2 linked regions of the Homo sapiens genome follow. The protein of the gene in region 1 interacts with the protein of each later gene in a biochemical or structural test. Each region holds a gene or a part of one and is shown in the gene's direction. Other genes may lie near its edges.

Region 1 (6,989 bases):
GCCAGACTCAGTAGCTTACACCTATAATCTCAGCACTTTGGGAGGCCAAGGCAGGAGGCTTGCTTGAGGCTAGGAGTTCAAGACCAGCCTCGGCAACATAGCAAGTCCCCATCTCTGCATTAAAAGTTAGCTTGTGGTGGCCCGTTCTTGTAGTCCCAGCTGCTTGGGAGGCTGAGTGGGAGGATTGCTTGAGCCCAGGAGGTCAAGTCTGCAGTGAGCCATGATTGTGCCACTGTGCTCCAGCTTGCGTGACAGAGCAAAACCCCATTGCAGAAAAAAAAGTTTTATCAGCTACTTGGGCATTCCATAGTCCAATCAAGTTGACACAAAATTAACTATCACAGTGCTCTAGATTGCATGCAGTAGAAGCAGACTGTAATGAGAGAGAAAAGCGTACCAGGGAACTTACCCAATCAACAAAAAGGCTGGAGACTTAATTCAGGAAATCAAGGCTCAGATCTAGTCATGGAACAATGTGCTTTGGATCCCTCCAATGTGGTCATCACCCTAGACACTGGCTGCCGTACTACCCATTCTTGATGTCACCTTTGAGTCACTCCCTCAGGTTATACACTGCAGGGTGGAGACATTTGATTGGCTTTGATGAAGTCATGAGTCCGTACTTCAGATGCTAGGGGACAAAGAGGGGAGCTATCTGTCGTGGGAAATGGGGCTCTGAGTCCCACCTATCTAGGCATTCCCCCACATGCGAAGTGTTGCCAAAAGCTGGGTAGCAAAAGCAGTAAATATCCACTACAGCTGGGTATGGCATTCTAGGTTTGATGGCATCATTTTCATATTATTTAATTTTTTAATGTGTATTTTTGTTAAGTTTGCTATCCATTTTGTGTTTCTTAGTAATTTTCTTTTTATCTCTGGATTACTTTTAAGAATTTATGTGTTTGATATAATTTCACTACATGTGGCTAGATAAGAATTTATCTGATCCTCTTGGAACTCTTTGGGCCTTTTCAACTTAAAGATGTTTGCCTTTCTTTAGTTGTAGAAAATTCCCAGTCATTATGTCTTCAAATACTACTACTCCCTATTACTGCCTTCCGAAATTCCTATTAGAAATTTGTTGGACTTTTCATTCTCTCTTCCATGTCTCTTTACAAAGAGACAGTCATGTATTTTGGCCATTTGATTCTGTGCTATATTTGAAGAGATTTCAAATATACTGTTGAATTCTTTAATTCTGTCTTCAGTTATGTGTAATTTGATGATTATCTGTTTAATGTATAACTAATCTGTTAAGTAATCTGTTTAATCTGTTAATTAGACAACTAATGTTTAACCTGTTTAATCTGATCTTTAGTTATATCTAATCTGATTTCATTGTTATTTTCAATGGTTATGGTTTTTATAAAGTTCTATTTGACTCTTTTTACATCTACCTGTTCTTTTTTCATGTTTTTTCCCCATAATTTTGTTTTAAGGTTTCTAGTCCTTCTTTTCTTCCTTCCATTATTTTAGGTATTCTTCCTTTTTTTTCCTCTAGTTTTTGTTTTTAGTTTTGTTATTGTTTTGTTTTGTTTTGGTATTCTTCCTTTAGAGCTTAGTTCAGATGACTCTTATCCACAGTCTCTGGGGTCCTCTGGGTCTTCCCTTGCATTCCAGCCATCCTCTTGAGAGACTTTGTGTGGCTGATTCATTTTTGTTCAGGGGTTCTTTTCAGTAGGAAGTTTCTGTCTTATGGTGATAGTTGGTTGATTGTTTTTACTGAGAGAGTCCTTGTCCTGCATTGTGAAAATTTCCCTCCAGGGCTTCTCTGGGGTCCTTAAAGTTAAAGGCAGGGTGGTTCTGTTGGGTAACATAGGCAGGTGGAGAGGATAAATAAATTTAGAATTATAAACCACCTAAAAAAGTTGCCCCATCTCTTCTCCCAGTATAGGCCACTGGCCTGAGTCACTGTCTCTTTTCCTTAAAAAATCATGAAATCTGGTGGGGCATGGTGGCTCACACCTGTAATCTCAGCACTCTGGGAGGCTGAGATGGGCAGATCACTTAAGGTCAGTAGTTCGAGACCAGCCTGGCCAATGTGTTGAAACCCCATCTCTACTAAAAATACAAAAAATTAGCTGGGCATGGTGGCTCGCGCCTGTAGTCCCAGCTACTCGGGAGACTGAGGCAGGAGAATCGCTTGAACCCAGGAGGCAGAGGTTGCAGTGAGCCGAGCTCGTGCCATTGCACTTCAGTCTGGGTAACAGAGCAAGACTCTGTCTCAAAAGAAAAAAAAAAAAATTAATGAAATCTGCACGCTCTCTCCTGCTTCAGAGCCAGGAAGACTGGGAGTTAGAAGTTAGAAAATCAAGTTCAAACAGGCTTTCAACAATTAGGTGACTTACTGGCTTATGTAGTTGAAAAGGGAAGGGATAGCCTGCAAATGACCTAGGCTCTTACACCCACTGACATCCCACATTAGATGACCTTTCTCTAAAGCCTTCTCCTTGCCTTTTCTCTCTCCGTCGTTTCTCGAACTCTCCAACACAACTCCAGATGGATTAATCCTTTCGAATCACAGCGGGAAATGCTGCTCTGCAGCTCAGAACCCTGCAAAGGCTCACTTTGTGCCTCTGGTGGGAAGTCCGAAGCATTGTGGTTGGCAGCCTAGGCCATTCATTTCTCCAGCTTTATCTCATCCGACCCTGCTTGACACATCCTTAAATCCATTCCAGCAGAACTCCTCTCTCTTCCTCTCACTCCCACTCTGAACTGTCCCTTCTCTGAAGGGACATTTGCCTATGGCCCTTGCCTGTGTGATATTTGCCTATGGCCTTTGCCCGTAGCATCCATGTTCTGGTTTGTATTGGAGTTATTTGTGTGTCTGTTTTACACCACCCCTTCATTCACTGAGTTCTTGGAGGGAGGAAAGCCATGTCTGACTTACCGTCTATTGGCCGTGGTGCCAGGCAGAAGGCATGTCACGTAAGAGTCGCTCCAGTGGGCCTCAGTGAATTGGGGCACCCCCAGTGCTCTTGCTGGTGATTCAGTTAAGCCAGGCTAGTGGCCCCTGTGCTGCACAGGGTGGGTACATGCACTTCAGCAGAGTCTCCTGAGGAACCCCTGGCTTAGTGTTATTGCATCAGCACACAAGAGCTCAACCCTGGCAGTGAGGTGGGAGTACAGCCAGAGAGAGCATTGCCCCTGCGTGGTGTCTCCCTCTCCCCCGTTCCTGGGCCTCCTGGTTTGGCCCCACTCCACCATTACTCTTCCTTCAGGATACTCTTCTGGCCCGGCAGCTGTCTTGAAAGCCCCTGTGCAGTTTCAAAATGCTCCCTGTTTGGACTGCAGCAAATCCTGCCTAGTAGCGTTGTCTGATCATGTGAATGTGATGCCTTCCCGGTCTGGCGCCTCTGGGGTGTACTGGGCAAGTCGGCCCACGCCTCCATAGGCCTTGCATGCAGCAGGGCTCACAACACACCTCTGTTGCTTAAGGGTGTCCATTCAAGTCACCCTGCTCCCAGTACTGACCCCAGGGTAGACAAAACGGATTCCGTAAGACATTCAAGCCAACAGTCAGGAACCTGATGTAGCTGTTGGGTGACCATACTTGTATCTAGGAGGCTATCCTGAGCCTAGCACAGAGCCTGGCATGTGGTAAACTCTCTATGAAGGAATTAATGAGTTGATGGGTGCATCTTTTGATGGGTGCATCTTTTGATCTCCTCCAACAGATTACAACAGCAGTGAATTGAAAACAGCCTGCAGGAAGCATGAGCTGTATGTGAGTTTCCAAGACCTGGGATGGCAGGTGAGTTCTCTGGACACGGGGGATAAAGGTCCTTTCTCAGCAGTTTACTCTCATCTGAATGGTGGCAGCCATTACCAAACACCCAGAGCTTGATTGAAGGCTGAGCTGCTTCCTTCTGTGGAAGTCCTGAGGAGCCCTCCCAAATGCTCAGGCTCCTGGAGTAAGGCAGAGGAAGCTTAGTCTGTGGGGCACCAGGCGCTCCAACACCTTCCTAGGGTGCCTGAGCTCTGTGATCCCTCAAAAATCAATAGCCACATTTCCCAATATTCTCACCTCATCCTTTCAAAGCCCATAGGACATACATTTATTTGGGCATTTAAACAAATTTTAATTGAGACAGGGTTGGAAAAAAATTACCTAATGGTTAACATCTCCAATGGCTGCAAACCAGCTCACCAAACGATGCAGAAGAGCACACGTTTGCCTCGTACCTGAGAACCATCACTAGTTTGTAAGAAAGGCAGCAACTTTAATCACAGGTGGTGAGCGATAAAAGGTAGCTTCCATATGCAGGTGGCACTACTTCCGCAGGAGCACCGTGGGCTCCTGGAGAGGCTTGCTTGGGTCCAAGCACATATTGCTGGCAACCTACGTGCTTCCAGGTAGCAGCTGAGGCCCTGTGGGCCTCTGCAAGGAGCGAGGGTTCTGGGGTCAGATGGACCAGGTTCACTTCCCAGCATTGCCACTTGAATGTGAACTTGGACAAATTCCTAAGCCTTCCTGCGTCTGTATCCTTGCCTGTGCAATGTGAAAAATACCTTTTCACAGCATTCCTGAAAAGCACAAATAGTGTGAGAAGTGCATGCTCATCTTTTGTTGCTTCCTTTGCATGAAATTAAGGACTGGATCATTGCACCCAAGGGCTATGCTGCCAATTACTGTGATGGAGAATGCTCCTTCCCACTCAACGCACACATGAATGCAACCAACCACGCGATTGTGCAGACCTTGGTGAGCTCTCGGAGACTTTGTTTTGTAAGTGGGAGTAAGCCAAGACCAGGTGTCATTTCTAAGGTACCTTCTCCCCTTCTGTTTTGGAACAGGTTCACCTTATGAACCCCGAGTATGTCCCCAAACCGTGCTGTGCGCCAACTAAGCTAAATGCCATCTCGGTTCTTTACTTTGATGACAACTCCAATGTCATTCTGAAAAAATACAGGAATATGGTTGTAAGAGCTTGTGGATGCCACTAACTCGAAACCAGATGCTGGGGACACACATTCTGCCTTGGATTCCTAGATTACATCTGCCTTAAAAAAACACGGAAGCACAGTTGGAGGTGGGACGATGAGACTTTGAAACTATCTCATGCCAGTGCCTTATTACCCAGGAAGATTTTAAAGGACCTCATTAATAATTTGCTCACTTGGTAAATGACGTGAGTAGTTGTTGGTCTGTAGCAAGCTGAGTTTGGATGTCTGTAGCATAAGGTCTGGTAACTGCAGAAACATAACCGTGAAGCTCTTCCTACCCTCCTCCCCCAAAAACCCACCAAAATTAGTTTTAGCTGTAGATCAAGCTATTTGGGGTGTTTGTTAGTAAATAGGGAAAATAATCTCAAAGGAGTTAAATGTATTCTTGGCTAAAGGATCAGCTGGTTCAGTACTGTCTATCAAAGGTAGATTTTACAGAGAACAGAAATCGGGGAAGTGGGGGGAACGCCTCTGTTCAGTTCATTCCCAGAAGTCCACAGGACGCACAGCCCAGGCCACAGCCAGGGCTCCACGGGGCGCCCTTGTCTCAGTCATTGCTGTTGTATGTTCGTGCTGGAGTTTTGTTGGTGTGAAAATACACTTATTTCAGCCAAAACATACCATTTCTACACCTCAATCCTCCATTTGCTGTACTCTTTGCTAGTACCAAAAGTAGACTGATTACACTGAGGTGAGGCTACAAGGGGTGTGTAACCGTGTAACACGTGAAGGCAATGCTCACCTCTTCTTTACCAGAACGGTTCTTTGACCAGCACATTAACTTCTGGACTGCCGGCTCTAGTACCTTTTCAGTAAAGTGGTTCTCTGCCTTTTTACTATACAGCATACCACGCCACAGGGTTAGAACCAACGAAGAAAATAAAATGAGGGTGCCCAGCTTATAAGAATGGTGTTAGGGGGATGAGCATGCTGTTTATGAACGGAAATCATGATTTCCCTTGTAGAAAGTGAGGCTCAGATTAAATTTTAGAATATTTTCTAAATGTCTTTTTCACAATCATGTACTGGGAAGGCAATTTCATACTAAACTGATTAAATAATACATTTATAATCTACAACTGTTTGCACTTACAGCTTTTTTTGTAAATATAAACTATAATTTATTGTCTATTTTATATCTGTTTTGCTGTAACATTGAAGGAAAGACCAGACTTTTAAAAAAAAAGAGTTTATTTAGAAAGTATCATAGTGTAAACAAACAAATTGTACCACTTTGATTTTCTTGGAATACAAGACTCGTGATGCAAAGCTGAAGTTGTGTGTACAAGACTCTTGACAGTTGTGCTTCTCTAGGAGGTTGGGTTTTTTTAAAAAAAGAATTATCTGTGAACCATACGTGATTAATAAAGATTTCCTTTAAGGCAGAGGCTGGTCGAGATGCTGCTGTTATCTTCTGCCTCAGACAGACAGTATAAGTGGTCTTGTTTCTAAGATTCCTACCACCAGTTACTTTGGGCCAAGTATCCACATCCCCTTGCGTATGGGAGGTGGGTGAAGAGTGTTGGATGCAAAGTGGTTATTATGGGAAGTAGCTCGATGGTAAAAGGACAAACACCTATCTATCTTAGAGCTTAAGCCTGTATGTGCTTATTCCCAAGGGAGATAGAGGTGTTTAATCACAAGGACAGCATGAGTTAGAGGACACTGGCATCAACAGCTGCCACAGCCGTGCACACCAGGGCCAGAGCAGCCCACTGACATCTGTCTTTGGTCTTGAGATCAAATGCATCCCATTCTTCATACATTAGAAGGTCGACCTCCTTGAAGCAGACCAAGTATAGCAAGCCTCTAAAAGGACTACTGAGAAACAGAATCAGAAACTCTAGAACTCTAGTTAGGGCCCTTCAGCAGGGCTGCAGAGCCTCCCTGGATACCCAGGCCTGGGAAAGCCTGTCTGGTCTTGTCACCCCAGGTGACAAATACAACTGGAATCTTTCAATGAGTTAATGAGATACTGAGAATGAGCCTCGTGGAATTTTCCATGCCTACCCTTTCTAAGGAAGACATCCAACAGTTCATGT
Region 2 (7,859 bases), on another chromosome or scaffold:
TGTGCTTTTCTGCATTCCCCGACTTTGTACCTCTGCTCTAACTCTTACCACACACTGCCTTGTGTTGCAGTTAAACGTCTCTGTGTAACAAGAATAGCAACAGTAGTAACAATAAACATGCAATGGATCATTACTACGCGGTAACCACAGGTGCATTATGTGCATTTTGTTACAGAATCTTCACCATGACCATAAGAGAATAGGTACTCTCATTTTCCCAGTTTTAAATGTTGAGGTAACCAATATACAGAGAGGTTAAATAGTGGAGGTGGAAATTACATCAGGCAGCCTAACTCTTAACCACAGTTTTGTACTCAAAACACAAACATTCTATAAAAGTACTCTAGAATCATGAAGCAAAGGTAGTTATATAATTCACGCTTAAGAGATAAACAGTTAAAAAGAAAACCCTGCTTATTTAAAAGTAATTTTTTTCCTGATGGTCTAGAGCATAATTAATGGGACAGATAAACTTCTTCCCTAAGACCTAAGGGGCTTAGTGAAGGTGAGATAATAAAAATGTATTCGTTTATTATTTATTTATTTAATCAGAAGCTCCTTTTTCTTGGGAGAGGAAATCAGTAGAGGCTACACAGATATATAACAGTAATTTAATTTCTTTTGAGTGGTGCTGTTAGAGTTTGGGGTATTTTTTAAGAAAATCATTAAAGATTAGTATTATTTGGTTCAAACTGTTAAAGCAGAAACATTTTCTTTATTAAGAATAACTAATGTCCAAGAACACATTTTGATGCATATTGTGGCCAGCTAAGGGCTCCAAGAGAAGCAGCATCGAGGGGAAAAGCAGACTGGGGAGCAGGGAAGGAGTGGGAGACTCAGGGCTGGCCATGGGAATAGGCTTAGAGGAAGAGAGAGAAAGAAGTAGAGGGTGAAGGTGCTAAAATATTATTCAGTTTGCTTTGCATATGTCCCATAGGTGAAAATGTGAAATTATTTTTTCTCTGAGTAGAAATCAGTTTGTTTGGGGACAGTATGGCATAGTCAGTAAGAGTCTGGGTTCTAGAATCAGACCTACAGGAACCTAATATCAATTATGCGATCTACTTACTTCATGTGGTTTTTGGAGGATTGCATATAAAGTTCCAGGCATGTAGTACTCAATAATTATTAGCTGCCTCTGTTGTGGTTGCCGATGATGATGATGATCAAATAGGGGACCTTTCTTGGCTCACAGAGCCTTCCTATGCAAGGTATCAGGACAGCTAGCACTAAATTCAGAGTTGATAGCAACTTAAATAGCTGTGTGATCCTTGGCATCTCCCAGCACCAACTTTATTATCTGTAAAATGAGCATAATGATGTCTTTCTTACCAGCTTGTTGGGAAAAATCTCATGAGAAAATATATGTGAAAGTGACATAAATTTTATATAAAGTACTATGCAAGTATAAAGCATTTTAATGTATTTTCTCTTACATTTTCATAAGTCATTTAATTCTTCCTCAAGCCATATCCGTCTTAAAAAATTTTTTTTCTCACCTCTTTTTAAGTCCCAAACTTCACTGTCTACCAGCGTGGTTCATATATGTGAGAATAATCCTAGAAAGGCACCTCTGTAGCAGAAAAGGCAAGCACACGTCACAATTTATTTCATAAGATAGGAAGTGCCCCTAACTTCCAGACAGTCTTCTGCATGCTCAAAAGTTCCCTCCAGATGTCTAGAAAAATCTCTTCCGGGCTGATCGCGATGTCTCACGCTTGTAATCCCAGCACTTTGGGAGGCCAAGGCAGGTGGATCACCTGAAGGTCAGGAGTTTGAGACCAGCGTGGCCAACGTGGGGAAACCTCATCTCTACTTAAAATATAAAAAATTAGCCCGGCGTGATGGTGGGCCCCTGTAATCCCAGCTACTCGGGAGGCTGAGGCAGGAGAATCACTTGAACCCAGGAGGCGGTGGTTGCAGTGAACCGAGATCGCGCCATTGCACTCCAGCCTGGGCAACAAGAGGGAAACTTCGTCTCAAAAAAAAAGAAAAAGAAAAAGAAAAATCTTCTCCAACCTCTTCATCCACATTTGTCAGTCACTCACTTTACTTCAAGACCAGTTGAGTTGCCACTTCCTAATGGAAGCCTATTGTAACACCTAGTCTGAATTACTATAATTTCCTGCTCTGGGCTCATGTTGCCCTTTGAAGATATATATTATAGTACTTTTCGTATTTTATTGTAGTGTTTTCGTTTTTACATCTGTCTTCTTTAGCCAGCAAACACTATCATCTTGGTTTTTCTGTGTGTGACTGACAGATAGCATCATAAATACTCATATATTTGGTTGGTTTCTTTTTTTATTTCGTGAATCAGTCAATCATTTAATGTAAACTTGCCCCCTTTATTTTACATCTGAGCAGATATAGGCTAAGGAGCCTAACTGAGTTGCCCAGTATTAGACAAGTAAATCACAGGCAGAGTCAGGACTAGAATACAGTACTCAGGTTTTAGATTTGATGTTCTTTTAGGATGGTTGATGAATGGTCTGTTCCTAAAATATCAACATGCTGAAGGGCTTGGCACTATCATTATGGGTGAGCACAAAGATATTATTGCTATCTGAAACTTAAGGAATGTAAAATATCTTTTAAAGTATTACTTATAATGAAATGAATATGAAATTTTCCTATTAGCAGTGCCCTTTTAAGGAATAAATGCTATTATTTTTCTCTGTTGATGCTTCTGTAAACCTCCTCTTAGGGCAATTGGTCAGTTTAATTACTTTTTGTTACAGATGACATTTACTGTGTAGGTCGCTATTTCTAAATACTTTAAGTTATAATGTGGAATCCTCATGTATATTAATTTTTTTCTTGCTCTCTCCAGGTTTCATTGCTTCAGACATGACATCAAGACACTCCAGTACCCAGCTGTGGTTAATTACACATTATCATGAAATGGGATCGTTGTACGACTATCTTCAGCTTACTACTCTGGATACAGTTAGCTGCCTTCGAATAGTGCTGTCCATAGCTAGTGGTCTTGCACATTTGCACATAGAGATATTTGGGACCCAAGGGAAACCAGCCATTGCCCATCGAGATTTAAAGAGCAAAAATATTCTGGTTAAGAAGAATGGACAGTGTTGCATAGCAGATTTGGGTAAATTTCTAAAAATATTTTTTTCCTCACCAGTTTTATTTTTGTTTCAATGGTTAGGTGAGTTGCATCTCTCCCCCACAACATGTTATGCAAAATTTCAAACATGCAGAAAAGTTGAACATTTACAATGAACACCTTTATACCCACCACATAGATTCTCACATTAACATTTTACTATCCTTAAGCATTATTATGTATTTATTCATCTATTCATCTCCCCATCCATCAGTCCATATCAACCTTTGATAGAGTTGAAAGTAAATTGCAGACAAAGGAATTCTTTCTTCTGATGATTTCAGCATGTACACTAGTATATCATTGACAAGAATGCATTATTTGCTTTTTCTTTTTTTCAGGTAAAATTTATATACTGTGAGATATACAAATCTTAAGAGTTTTGACAAATGTTGTAAAACCCAAATCCCTGTCGAGATACAGAGTTTCCCATTACTCTTGACAGTTACCTCAGGCTCATTCAGTCAGTCCCTGCCACACCCCACCTCAGAAGTAACCAGTACTGTTGCATTTTGGTTTCACTAACCTTCACATAAAGTAGGTGCACAATAAATACTCTATAGAATTAGTTTATCTTAAAAGTGGTCTCTAAAATCATTCTGTAACCAAGGCAAAAGAATCAAGTTAAGAAATAGGAAAATAATCCCCGAACTGATTCACTCTTTTCCCTGTTAGGATAGCTCATTCTTATGGTGTTAGAGTAGTACTCAGTGTAGCTTTAGTTGCATTATAAATAAGAGTATTTTCATTTATAGTGGCATTTTATATAAAACCATGTTCTTCCTGGATTCCTAGAATATTGGCTAAATAATTGTGCTAATGAGAATTCAGGGCCCTCTACTTGATTAAACATGGTTTATATGATATTTATATTATTGCAATTATTGTTAGCCTGATAAAGGTTTAGACAAAAATAGCTTTAGTTATGTAAATAACAAAGTTTATTTTTGTTTGTTTTTAAACATAAGGGATTTGACATGTTAGGAAAATTTATTTCCTTTGAATCCCTTTAAAGTCTTTGCTTTTACATTGAGAAATTACAATGTTTCCCAAGTAGGAGACGAAAGATTTTAGGATAAGCATTGAAAGAGCATGGCCCTAAAGTTTTTTGCAGGCATTTTTAGTTGTGGTGTAGAGGACTTTTATGGCTTATTCCATGGCTCTTAGAGCCAGGGCGATTTGGGTTTAAATTCTGGCTTTCTCAATTACCCTGTATTTTTGTGCAAGTCTATTTATCTATTTACCTGGCCCAAGTGCTGACACTGCTTTCACTCAGTGAGACAGGGACAGTGAGGGCGAAGGCGGATGGGGTTGGGAGTTAGCCAAGAGGAACTCCAGGGCTTGACGCTGTGCCCTGTACTTCTGCGTTGTTAGAAACTTGCATAACAGTGTGATCGTGGCCGGGCGCGGTGGCTCACGCTTGTAATCCCAGCACTTTGGGAGGCCGAGGCGGAAGGATCACTTGAGGTCAGGAGTTCAAGATGAGCCTGGCGAACGTGATGAAACCCCATCTCTACTAAAAATACAAAAAAAAAAAAAAAAGAAAAATAATAATAATAGCCGGGCGTGGTAGCGTGCGTCTGGAATCTCAGCTACTGGGGAGGCTGAGGCAGCAGAATTGCTTGAACCCAGGAGGCGGAGGTTGCAGTGAGCCGAGGTCGCGCTATTGCACTCCAGCCTGGGCGACAGAGCGAGACTTCGTCTAAAAAAAAATATATATATAGTGTGATCATATATTACTCATGTAACTAAAAAATAAGCCCACCTCACCGGATTCTGGTAAGGCCCAGAAGTATTATAAATGTCTGGTAAACAATAAGGATTCAAGTTGTAGCTTCTGTTATAATCCAGTGGTCTGGGGAGGGTGGACAAATTGAGGTGGCTCTTGGTTTTGGTTTATGGGACTTGGTAGGGAAGGAGTTGAGGGGAACTTTGCAGTAAGTCCAGCTAATTAATTCTTCAACTACATTTCTTTTGGCTTGTAACCTTCCAATTAGATATATGGGTTTGTATAAAAATCTGTTAAGGCGTTATTATTCAGGATATGGTAAAACAATGCAGTGCAGGAAACAACTCTTATAAGACCATAATTTGTATATAACTTACCAGTATATACCTAGCAATTAAGGATCATGTATTAGAAATAGTGTTCTATGATTAATCCTGCAAAAAGATCAGTATTATATTGATTAATTGATTGAGAGAGGATCTTATTCTGTTGCCCAGGCTGATCATAGGTCACTGCAGCCTCGATCTACTGGGCTTAAGCAATCTTCCTGCCTCAGCGTTCCAAAACAGCTGGGACTACAGGTGTGTACCACCACACCTGGCTAACTTTTTTTTGTTCTTAGTAGAAATGAGGTCTCACTATGTTGCTCAGGCTGATCTTGAACACCTGAGCTCAAGTGACAATCCCATCTCGGCCTCCCAAAATGTTGAGATTACAGATGTGAGCCACTGTGCCTCGTCTGTTTTTCTTTTTATTATTAAAAAATTCAAATGTTATAATGATCACTTAAATCCCGAACACCTAGATTCAATAATTGTTAAAACTTTGTGATGTTTGCTTTATCAATCTGTGACCATGTGTATATTTTTGCCAATCCATTTGAAAATAAAGTGTTACAGGCATCACAACACTTTACCCCTCAATACTTCAAAATTCATCCCTTGAAAATACTTAAAAATGCATCTTCTTCATAATCAGTTTTTCATATCTACAGATTATTGATAATTCTCTAGTATCATTTTATATTCATTTTCAGATGTTTTCAGTTTTTTCAAAGAGGAACTCAGCCAAAGTTTACAAATTGCATCCGGTTGTTTTGTCATCTTTAGTGTAAAAATTACTTATTACTAAGAACAAATCACCTGTAAAATTTAGCATCTTAAAACAACACAGATTTGTTATCTCACACAGTCTCTTGAGAGTCAGGAATCTTGGAATGACTTAGCGGTGTGGTTCTGGCTCAGGGTCTCGTGGAGGTTGCAATCATCTGAACGCTCAACCAGAGCTGGAGTTTCCAACTCTGTGAGGACACACTTAAAGCCATGATTGGCGGCAGGTCTCAGCTCCTTGCAGGGGGACCTCTCCACAGGGTTGCTTGAGTGTCTTTATAACATGGTGCATGGTGAGCTGAGAGGGACAAACAGGAAGCCTTTTATAATTTTATAACATCTGTTATATCCTAACTGTGAAGATACCCACTGTCACTTATGCCATAGTCTATTCAATAGTCCAGCATACACTCAAGGGATGGGGAATTATGCCTCACCTGGAGATCCTAGCAGTGGTGGCTTTAAAATATGTCCACAAGTTCTTTGAAGCTTCTCCCATCTTCAGAATATCTCCATGTTCTATTTAACCTGCACCTTTTAAATATTCTGATATTTTGACTGTTTGGTTCTGCAAATGGTGGAGGGGCATACAGTAGTCCCCTCTTTTCCCTGAGAAATACCTTCCAATACTCCCAGTGGATTCCTGAAACTCAGGATAGTACCAGATTCTATATATACTATGTTTTTTCCTATTACATACCTATTATAGTTTAATTTATAGATTAGCTACAGTAAAAGATGAACATTAGTAACACTAAAATGGAACAATGATAGCAGTATGCTATAATAAAATTTATGTGAATATGGTATCTCTCTCAAAATACTTAATTGTACTGTACTTACCTATTTTTGGACTGTAGTTGACTGCGGGTAACTGAAGGATAAGTGGGGGGACTATTGCATAGGATTTGGGAAATGTTCACAGTGTCCATAGAATCTTGGGGTTGATTATAAAAATAGGTGAAAGAGGAACCTGTCTGTTTTAGTGTAATGCAGTTGCCAGTATCTTTGCTAATTATTAAGGATGAGATAAGGTGTGCTAGCTCCCTGATGTTATATGAAATTGTCATCCCCCACATTCAAAGCCGTGGAGTGGAAGGTGAAGCATTCTCTGTAGATGGCTTGAGAGATCAACAAGGGATATTTGCATTGCAGTGGTTTACAGGGACTGCTTGCTCCAATTTGGCACTTTTCATTACAACAAATGTTATAGGAATCATTTTCAGTCAGTCTGCATATGCATCAGTAACATAAAATCATCCACAAATAAAGCATGCATGTATGTGTCTCCCCACTGGCCAGTGAAGAAAGCCTGTCTCCCTAATTGACTGAGGAATTCTGGAATGAGTCATGGTTTAAGAAAGCATTTGAAAGCCATTTAACCTGAGAGTTGTGCTTTCAATTGAGGTCCAGTTAAATGCTGTCTGTTTCCATGATTCTAGAGAAAAGGCCTGTGGGTTTGGTCAGCATTACTGCTCAGATAAGCAGCTCTTCCTTTAGGAATAAAGCAGTGCTTATAGCAATCTGCCCTTTATGTAGTGATAAATTACTTTAAATGCTCTATCTCACACTGTTGGAAATTTGTGTTTGGAGACTAGTGAGAGCAGTGGTGGAGCTTGAGAGCTTAATTTGCTTCTTGTTAAGCCACTTAGAGGCTCACATTTAACATGTGAGCCTGTTTTCCTGTGGACCTCAAACACAGGCCACATTGGTTTAGTGCATTGGTCTACAATTTACCCAAAACTTTTTGTCTCTTTGAGGTTCATATATTAACCTGATAGCCTTAGAATGTTTCTGACATTTAGTCCCTTTTCTGCTCTCACCCCGGAAATAATCACAAAGGGCATTCTAGGGATCATTCTGAGTGTATTGCAACAGTGACCCTGGATCCACAAGA

The links. The genes of interacting proteins can lie anywhere in the genome.
Region 2: the proteins of BMP6 (region 1) and ACVR1 form a complex in vitro, tested with the Homo sapiens proteins (one study listed by BioGRID).

What each region holds. Positions count from the first base shown.
Region 1 is NC_000006.12:7,875,397-7,882,385, forward strand, and holds the end of BMP6 (bone morphogenetic protein 6 preproprotein), read left to right. Parts: intron 1-3,677; coding exon 3,678-3,754; intron 3,755-4,594; coding exon 4,595-4,705; intron 4,706-4,797; coding exon 4,798-4,947; 3' UTR 4,948-6,332; downstream 6,333-6,989. UniProt on the Homo sapiens protein: Growth factor of the TGF-beta superfamily that plays essential roles in many developmental processes including cartilage and bone formation.
Region 2 is NC_000002.12:157,761,171-157,769,029, reverse strand, and holds part of ACVR1 (activin receptor type-1 precursor), read left to right. Parts: intron 1-2,833; coding exon 2,834-3,109; intron 3,110-7,859. UniProt on the Homo sapiens protein: Bone morphogenetic protein (BMP) type I receptor that is involved in a wide variety of biological processes, including bone, heart, cartilage, nervous, and reproductive system development and regulation.